Regions from separate parts of the Homo sapiens genome. Here all the other regions are reported to be linked to region 1. Evidence: microRNA targets listed by miRTarBase, many of them from high-throughput screens and not tested one by one. Region 1 holds a microRNA gene; each other region holds the end of a gene's coding sequence.

Region 1 (3,253 bases):
TTTTTCTTTTCTCTTTATTTTTTTTGAGATGTAGTCTCCCTCTGTCGCCCAGGCTGGAGTGCAGTGGTGCGATCTCAGCACACTGCAACCTCCGCCTCCTGGGTTCAAGTGATTCTCCTGCCTCAGCCTCCAAGTAGCTGGGATTACAGATGCCCGCCACTACACCCGACTAATGTTTGTATTTTTAGCAAAGGCAGGGTTTCACCATGTTGGTCTCGAACTCCTGACCTCAGGTGATCTGTCCACCTCGGCCTTACAAAGTGCCGAGATTACAGGCGTGAGCCACCGTGCCCAGCCTGGTTATGTTTTTTTCCAGCCCACTTTTAAACCCACCAATGGAAAATGGAACTTTGTTGGCAAAGGTGACTGATATCTTGGCCCCTCTGGATATGGCGGGAAGCCTTGCTAAATACCAGCCTTGCCTTTTCCTCTCTCTAGAGCACAGCCTGCCCCCCTCACCCCAACACACATGAGCACCATGTTGCTTCCTACTGCCAACAGTGCTGGTTTACATTTTGGACTGGGGCAAATGTCATTTGAACCAGAGATTTCTCACTCAAGGTCTACAGTCCAAGGACGCATGTTATAAAGGTCCAGGTCCAGGAAGCCCCTGAAGTTGAATATCAGATTGTGCATGGAGTCTGGGTATGTTTCTGGGGGGAAACCCTGAAGTTGAATATCAGATTGTGCATGGAGTCTGGGTATGTTTCTGGCGGGGAAGCCTCTATAGATTTTATTGCTTCTAACAAGGTCCATGAACCATTCCCCACGCCCCGCCAACCCAAAAGTTATGGCAGCTGCCTTGAAGAAGGGGTGGGGTGGAAGAAAGGGCATGAGCCTGGTCCTCTCAGACCCTCAGTTTCCTCATCTGGGAAATCAAGGTGGTAAAACCCACTCTGCAGAGTTTTCCTGAAGATTAAACCCAATAAACCAAGACATGTACCCACTACATAGCAGAGGCCCAGTGAAACTCCAGTGTAATCCTCATGTTCAAAGGAAGAGGCAGAATAGACGATTCTCCCATTTGGCAATTCCCTTTCCTGGTGGAGAGGAATCTGCTGAAAACCTCAGCCAGCATGCCATCTGCGGAACTCCAGCAGGCTGGAAGCCGGCGTCTCGGGGCCAGAGTATCGGGAGCTGTTGCTTCCTGCCATCCTCCTGACGGTAACTGCCATTTCCTTGGGCTCTTTTTAGATCAAAGGAAGGGCTAGGCTGGAGAGATGAGTGGGGACCATTCAGGGGATGGCACAAGGCGCATTTAGGACGCCTGCTGGCATAGTTTAAAAATAGGCTTCTGTCCTTGGACACCAAGGGGAAGCAACCCCAGGGTTTTCAAGAGGCCTCTGCTGGCCAAGGTTATGAGCCCTACACGGGAGAAAAATGTTTCAGAACGTATTTTCCCAGCTGCCACAGGTAGGTATCTCTGACCCAGGAATAAACCTTTCCTAGTCAAAGGAACTAAATAAGGTGGTTAAAGGAGGAGATCAAGTGTTTAATGAGCACCTACTACATGCCACACACTGTGTGTCTGATGAGTTTGCTTTGTGTCATCCTCACAACAACCTTGCAGGGTAGAGATGATTTTTCCTACTTTTCTAGGTTGTTGGGGGCTGGGGCAGGGGGAACAGAGAAGTTAAGTACGGACCTCAAGATCACACGGACCGCAAGATCACACAGCTAATAAATAAGCAAAACCAGAATTTAAACCCAGGTCTGACTCCAAGCCTGTGCTCTTTTTAACCACCTCTCAAACTGTGATGTAGAAATAAAAAGCATGAAAGAGATGGAGGTGAGGGGCTTACCCAGTGGTTGGACTTGTTATTTCCCATGGGGAAGGGAAGGGAATAGCTGTTTATTTAACATCTACTATGTGCCAGGACTTCTGCCGGGATTTTTCTATGCTCTCATTGCCCCTGCCAGCAGCCTGAGACAGGGGTCTAAGGTCACGTGCCATTTAGACATGACAAAACTGCAGTTCTGGGAGGTACAGTGACTTGCTCAAGGCTCTCAGACAAATCAGTAGCAAAGCACAGGCTTTCATCCAGAGCCCATGAAGTAAATCTCAGAGCCACCCAGGAAGCAGTTCTTATGTTGACCGGCCTTCCAGAAAGACTTGCCAAGGCTGGGCAGTGGTGACCCTGACAGCCAGAGTTCCCTCCTCCCTAACCACCCACAGACACTCATCACCCACCCTCCAAATCTCTGCCATGCATTTCGAGTCTGGGCACTGTTTCCTTGACTAACTGCTGGAAAGACACTGCCCTCTAGTCTTGGTGGGGCTGGAGCAGCCTGTGATTAACCATGGGGGTTAGGCTGGGCATGGTGGCTCATGCCTGTAATCCCAGTACTTTGGGAAGCTGAGGTGGGTGGATTGCTTGAGCCCAGGAGTTCGAGACCAGCCCCAGCAACCCTGACTCTACAAATAATAATAATAGCCGGGTGTGGTGGCACACACCTGTCGTCCTAGCTACTTGGGAGGCTGAGGTGGGAGAATCACTTGAGCCCGGGAGTTTGAGGCTGCAGTGAGCTGTGATCATGCCACTGTACTCAGCCTGGGAGACAGAGCAAGACTCTGCCTCAAGAAAAAACTTAAAAAGCCATGGGATTGACCAGGTGCAGTGGCTCACGCCTGCAATCCCAGCACTTTGGGAGGCTGAGGCAGGTGGATCACAAGGTCAGGAGTTCGAAACCAGCCTGGCCAATATGGTGAAACCCTGTCTCTACTAAAAATACAAAAATTAGCCAGGTGTGGTGGCGGGCGCCTGTAGTCCCAGCTACTCAGGAGGCTGAGGCAGGAGAATCGCTCGAACCCGGGAGGCGGATGTTGCAGTGAGCCAAGATCACACCACTGCACTCCAGCCTGGGGGACAGAGGAAGACTCCATCTCAAAAAAAAAAAAAAAAAAAAAAGCCATGGGATTTGGGCCAGGGCTGTCCCTTCTCCCTTCTATGAACGAGAAGGGCAACTGCAAAGGTCTCCACTGAGTCCCCACCTCACAGAAACCGCACCTCCCCCACTTCTTCTTAGAGTCCCTGGCCTCAATTCTTGGTCAGAAGTGGGGGGCACGGCTCACTGGCTGGGGCCAGCACCCACCCAAGGCCAGCAGGGCCTTGGTCTTTCATGGGAGGATGGCCCAGGGGATTTAGTCGCTGGCGTGGTTTGGGGACCTCTTCCTGGCAAAAGAGGTTTTATTTGTTTATTATTATTATTATTATTATTATTATTTACCAGTGACAGGGTATCTGTATGAGTC
Region 2 (3,253 bases), not on the chromosome of region 1:
ACGTGGATTAGATTTGCGGCTGTGTCATCGACCTTTCTCGGGGCCAGCAAAGTGCCAAGTGTCAACACAGTGAGGGAGTCGAGGGGCTTGGCTCAGACCCTAGCAAGGGGCAGGAGGGAGCTAAAGGTCAGCTTCGGCCCTGGCACCATGGGTGGGTCAGAGGAGGGGTGAGGAAGGTGAGCGGGCCAGGAGGCTGCAGGGGTGGAGGCGTAAGCACTGGGGTGTGCTCTGCCCCTCGCTAGTCAGGGCAGAGGATGGCTCATGGTCCTGAACGGACAGCTCCCACCTGGCCCACGGGGGCAGAAGGTGGTCTGCGGTCCAGTAGATCGGCAGGGGCGGGGCTGGCCGGAGGTGCTGGCAGGGGAGCACCCCACACAGCCCGCACCGGGCGTTGCCTACACAAGGGCTCCGAGATGGCTGGAGTGAGGGTGGGGCTAGATCTGGTCTAGAGAGGCGACTCCAAGCTCTCTTGCTGGCTCCCAGCTGTGGGAATCCTTTAGGCTTGTTCTCAACCTACACGTTAAAAATGCTTCTTGGTGTGTTTGGGGAGGGGGAGAGGGAAACTGAGCTCTCTCTTGACCTCCTCCAACACCCTTGACTTGCTTACCCAGCCATTTTCAGTAGCTACACGGGTGGTCACAGAACACTGGGCGGCACTCGGCACACAACACAGAACCGGGGCAGTCCATGCAGGTGCGGGAACACATGTCGGACCCAGGGAGCAAGGAACACGCCACCCCGAGGAACATGCAAACGGAGAAGATCCCTGCAGATCCAAGGATGCCACAACCCGACGGGCGCTGAGGAAGCACGATTATCTAAGAAAAAGCCACTGTTGAACAACAACGCGCAGCACGGCGCCTGATCTGCACCCCCCTCTGCGGGAGTGATGCATTGCAGAACGGCGGCCGGGTACCGTGCAGACACCCACGAGAACACTGACACAGAGACACTGACAGACACACACAGATGCACTAGGTTCTTGACACAACGTGGACCTGTGTTTAAGGGGACAGGTGGCCCTAGAAGGAACAGAAGACAGAAACACCTGCTCCTCCTGCAGAAATGTCTGCAGCTGCAGCTGAGCCAGGCAGTGCAGTAGAATTTCTAGAAAGACTTGTCAGCGGTTTGCTGATGAGACTCCTGGAGACAGAGTCGGGGTGCCCTCAGGGCGTGCGACCACCAGATGGTGCAAAGCAGGAAGCTCCTCCTACCCTGGGCAGGGCCTCCCGAGCCTGCTCTCTTTCTCACTTAGCGCACACACACACACAACACACACACACACACACAAATGCACATACACTTCTCTCCCCTCCTTGGAAGGACTAGAAGGAAATGTCCATGTTGCTTTTCACGGGGAACAAAAAAAGGCAAAAAGGTTCTGGACACTGCTCAGGTGTCAGTGTCGCCGGCCAGTGGCAGCTTGTGGGCTGCTGTAGGCCGTGAGCCCCATGAGATGGAGGAGTGGGTTTCAGGCCCCTGCCCTGGCCAGGCCTGGCTCCACACGTGAGGTCTCTGGAGTACCCCTGGAGGGGTCTGAACCAGCTCACCTGGCGCCTGGTGTGCTGGGAGGGATATGGCTGTCAAAGTCCCCCAAAAAGGACCTTCCCACCGATGGGCTGGGTTGAAGTCCCAGTGGCCCCATGTGGCCAGGTCTTCATCGAAACACGGCTTCTTTCCTTAAAAGGTCCCCTCTGGTCTGCACTGCCGGAGGCCAAAGGAGAGGGGTGCTGGGGCCCGGCTTCCCGGGCTGTGGGTGGCACGCTCCTCTCTCAGGGCCCTCTGGGCTGAAGCAGTGCAGCACAGCTCCAGAGGTGAGAAGGGAGGGGCAGACCCCAGCCTTGCAGGATCTGAGGAGGTGGGAAGGTCGAGGGCAGGGCCGTCCTGGGGCAGAGCTAGCTGAGCTGGGCACACAGGCCGACCTCCCAGGCCCCATGCTGCTCTCAGATGCAAACAGCAGGGATGGATGCTGTCTGGCCCTGGGGTAAGGGCCAGTGTCCTCAGCCATCCCCTCTCCTCCACGGGAGAGCACAGGGTACCATCCCAGGACGGCCTGCCTTCACCCTTCAGAGACAGTTCACTTCTATTACAAAATAAAAATTCTCTGTAGAGAGCCCCCGCCCCCGGCCTTTGACAAACCACTAAAAGACATTTATTACATCAATATAAAGATATGTCGCTCTGAGAAAGGTTTGCAAACAAAGACAAATGCGTGTACTGAGGTTGCACCAACCCCAAAGCACGCACGCAGCTAACAAAGTTGGCAAATATGAATTTTCATCATGAGATTTTTCCAAAGCCAGAAGAAAGAAGGAAATGAGGTACGTCCTCAAAGAAAAGGCCTCCCCCAGCCACGCACGCACACACGTAGACACACACATGTAGACACGCACACACAGATCCTCTCACCAACTTCTGCCTTGTTCAAGACGTTGCAGCACCCACTTCAGCTGTGAATGGGGCATGCCTGAGAGAGTCCGGGCTCCTACAGAGAAGTGGGGCTTCCTCAGGGACAGATGGGAGCAGGGGCTGCTTCGTGTGCATGAGGACAAAACCAGGCTGTGTGCGTGTGCGTGTGCAGGGGCGACGGCCTCGGTTCATTCCTGGGGAAAAGGGAGAGAAGAGACGCACAAAACAGATCATCGCCGCACAAGCAGGGGGCGAGGGCGGGCGGGCTCAGCCTGGCCTGCCGTGCTCAGTTGATCTGGCGACAGGCCTCGAAGGTCCACTTGGTGGCCCCTCCGTAGATCTCGATGTGGGATTCAGCCCAGGCGATGACATTGCCGGACAGAGCCTTGGTGCTGCAGGTGGCCAGGTTGTACACCTCCCCGGGGGTCAGCTTGCGGTCCCAGATGTTGAAGTGGGCCAGCTCACCCACAAATGCCTGGGTGGCATCAAACCCACCACCCAGAGTGTCCTTCAGAGAAAAACAGAGGATGAGAGTGGAGGGGTCGCCAGGTGGTCTGGGGGCCCATCCCTAGGCCGGGGATCTGAGTGCCTCTGTGCCTGCCCGATCACGGACTCTCACGGACACTCCTAGGTGCCGTTTCGTCTCCCTGTCCCTGACTCTCCAGCCCTACATCCATCCCTCCTCTGGGGGAGCCCAAGAAAAGGGATGGCACCGACCACCTCTGCCCTGGAGCTTCTCCTGGGGGGACCTGGACTCTGCCCCTCCTGCAGCTGGTCCCTCAGCCATGGACAACCACAGCAGCTGGGCCTGGGGCCCCTGCCCAGACATCACTCCATGCCAGCT
Region 3 (3,215 bases), not on the chromosome of region 1:
CAGGACAAAAACAAGATCCTCGACAAGTGTCAGGAGGTGATCAACTGGCTCGACCGAAACCAGATGGCAGAGAAAGATGAGTATGAACACAAGCAGAAAGAGCTCGAAAGAGTTTGCAACCCCATCATCAGCAAACTTTACCAAGGTGGTCCTGGCGGCGGCAGCGGCGGCGGCGGTTCAGGAGCCTCCGGGGGACCCACCATCGAAGAAGTGGACTAAGCTTGCACTCAAGTCAGCGTAAACCTCTTTGCCTTTCTCTCTCTCTCTTTTTTTTTGTTTGTTTCTTTGAAATGTCCTTGTGCCAAGTACGAGATCTATTGTTGGAAGTCTTTGGTATATGCAAATGAAAGGAGAGGTGCAACAACTTAGTTTAATTATAAAAGTTCCAAAGTTTGTTTTTTAAAAACATTATTCGAGGTTTCTCTTTAATGCATTTTGCGTGTTTGCTGACTTGAGCATTTTTGATTAGTTCGTGCATGGAGATTTGTTTGAGATGAGAAACCTTAAGTTTGCACACCTGTTCTGTAGAAGCTTGGAAACAGTAAAATATATAGGAGCTTAAATTGTTTATTTTTATGTACTACTTTAAAACTAAACTGAACATTGCAGTAATGTTAAGGACAGGTATACTTTTTGCAAACAAATGCATAAATGCAAATGTAAAGTAAAGCTGAAATTGATCTCAAAGTTACTGTCTTGGAGTTTTCAATTTTCCTTCCTTTATATTTTACCCATATTCGTCTTTTAAGATGTTAGTATGATGTGAAATTTATCTAACCAATCTTGTTTAATTCCCAGATGAGGGTGCTGCCTTGAATTCCAACAACTTAAGGGGAGAAGAATCTGGGTAAACTTCACCCACCCTTAAATACAGAAACCTGACTTGGGGTCTTCCTAGTGTACTCACACTCCTACAACTTAAGTGTCCAAATGAAAATTCACCTGAATATTCCAGGAAAATATGAGCTATATTCTGGGGTTAAATGTAAAATGAGCCTTTAACAAAAGCTGGGCAGAAGTTGTCTTATAATTGCCAAAGGAAATATGGAAACAAATTAATTTTGTGACATACAGGAGCCTGAAACAAGAGACAGCAGGCAAGCTTTCAAGTGACTTAATAGTGAGTATAAATTTAGTCAAACTTGTTTAATTTTCTAGTAAAACAGCTCAACTTCTGAGCTTATGGCAAATTCTAATAACATGTTTCCCGCAGTTAGAATTACTTGGGTAGGGAAACATAATTATTATTATTTTTTTCTGGTTTGGGGATCATAACGTTTTTGCAATACTTGCCTTAAATCACTACGATAGATTTCTTTTTTAAAAGGCAAACTGTACTAGATAGTCTTGTATTTTGTTAATATACAACTTGTCCATTTTCCTCCATATCCAATTTGAGATTGTTATAGATAAGAATATTGCAACCCTTTGGTGATCCACTATCCTGGACTTAATCTTTAAAATTCACATCCTTCAGAGAAAGGAATTCATTTTTATTTTTTAGTGAAATGACATGACTACTCTTTTCTTACTCTCTTTAAGGAGAACTTGAGAGAAATTCAGTAAAACCAATAGGAAAATGCATAGTTAACCTAATGTTTTTACTGCACATAGACGTTTTGATATCTTTCCACATGATGCAGGTTTGCTTCATGCTGCTCATAAGACAATAGTTATGAAAGCTTTATCTTCAATTTAGTAGTGGACCCATCTGTGTCATTCAGAGAGATTAATTTTATGAATAATGGAATGAGTAATAATTTTAAAACTAGCTAAGAAGTTAGCCTAAGAATACTGGCCTTTGGTAATGACCCTTTCATACAAGAGTTGACTCTTAAGTACACATAAGGTGTTTTTTTTTTTTTCCTTTTTAGCAAGCCTCATTTGGGTAGGGGGGAGGAAGATAAATAGCCAACAGTGAAATTGCTTCAACATAAAAACCTTTTTTTTTTTTTAAAGGAAACTGCTTTTTATACTCTGAAAAGCTAAAGATAACTCCAATTTATCAGTGCTGGTGTCACATTGGTGGAAATTTTTCAGCAATGAGCATTTAAGGGTGTTTCATGGACTACAGGCATAAATATGTGACAAACTACTATGGTACTACAAAATCAGGTTAATTGTAGCTTTAGAGTGACGTTTACTGTGAGTTTTACCAAGATAATACCCATTCTGTTACCCTTTTATTAGTCCTTTATTTGTTGAAAGTGTTCATTCCTTGCTCTAACTTCAAAATATAATGGAGTCCTTCTGTAAATGCAGTTTGGTATGACTCATTTTAGACCTCACTTAAGAGATTAGTTTCTAAAGTATCAGAAAATGACCATTGGTAGTTTTTGATCCTACGGCCTGACCTCCGGTAGCTTGCTATAATACTAACATCAATCTGGGCAGATACTTCATTTTCTATTTTGAAAAGTAATTTGTAAAACTCAAATTCTTGAGTTTTACATTCTTGAGCATTCTTGAGAGTGTTTCTTATTTAATTCTCTCTTTTCAAATTTACCAAGATTTGCATATTACCAAGATAAAGCCACCAAAGTAGCCATTCACTTTCCAGGGGTCAGTTGAAACTTGTAACCTGATAACTCCTGGGAACTCCTTAGCAGATGTTAGATCAGCCATAGTCAAATAACAGTGGAAAAAGTACTTGATGTTAGGATGGGGCTAAATTACAGTTTAAGGATTCTCCGACAGGCACTTATCTGAAATTCTTTTTTTTTTTTTTTTTTTGAGACGGAATTTCACTCTTGTTGCCCAGGCTGGAGTGCAATGGCTTGATCTCGGCTCACTTCAACCTCCGCCTCCTGGGTTCAAGCGATTCTCCTGCCTCAGCCTACCGAGTAGCTGGGATTACAGGCATGCACCACCACACCTGGCTAATTTTGTATTTTTAGTAGAGATGGGGTTTCTCCATGTTTGTCAGGCTGGTCTGGAACTCCCGACCTCAGGTGATCCGCCCGCCTTGGCCTCCCCAAGTGCTGGGATTACAGGCGTGAGCCACGCGCCAGCCCACTTACCTGAAATTCTTATCTGAATGTTTGATTAACATAGTTGTCCCTGTTTTGAGGGAACAAATATAGACACCTGTCAAACGAAGACATAACTAGTTGTTTACAGTATTTGAGATGTGTGAAATTTCAAAACAAACTCACTTTAAATTTTTTATAGTATTGATTTGATATGTATAATGAAAATGCATTAAAACTTGTACA

The links. Region 1 holds the annotated microRNA hsa-miR-5003-5p (UCACAACAACCUUGCAGGGUAGA, at 1,554-1,576, shown strand). A microRNA usually pairs through its seed, bases 2 to 8, with sites in the 3' UTR of a target mRNA and lowers its output. Matches are read on the target gene's strand: a 7mer-m8 pairs with bases 2 to 8, a 7mer-A1 pairs with bases 2 to 7 and ends in A, and an 8mer does both.
Region 2: the mRNA of NPTX1 is a reported target of hsa-miR-5003-5p. Seed matches in the 3' UTR shown: 7mer-m8 at 1,268-1,274 and 7mer-m8 at 664-670.
Region 3: the mRNA of HSPA2 is a reported target of hsa-miR-5003-5p. The part of its 3' UTR that is shown has no 7-base or 8-base seed match.

The regions. Positions count from the first base shown.
Region 1 is chr5:172,660,634-172,663,886 of GRCh38, forward strand. It overlaps MIR5003 (microRNA 5003), which reads left to right and starts at 1,532; the gene lies at 1,532-1,630. All of the region lies in intron 1 of NEURL1B (neuralized E3 ubiquitin protein ligase 1B), which reads left to right.
Region 2 is chr17:80,468,118-80,471,370 of GRCh38, forward strand. It overlaps NPTX1 (neuronal pentraxin 1), which reads right to left. Exons shown (of 5, transcript NM_002522.4): 5 at 1-2,917. The coding sequence ends at 2,696. Among named protein-coding and RNA genes, the nearest start is that of NPTX1, 6.9 kb to the right of the region's middle. RefSeq lists an enhancer at 1-532.
Region 3 is chr14:64,542,551-64,545,765 of GRCh38, forward strand. It overlaps HSPA2 (heat shock protein family A (Hsp70) member 2), which reads left to right. Exons shown (of 1, transcript NM_021979.4): 1 at 1-687. The coding sequence ends at 219. Among named protein-coding and RNA genes, the nearest start is that of HSPA2, 3.4 kb to the left of the region's middle.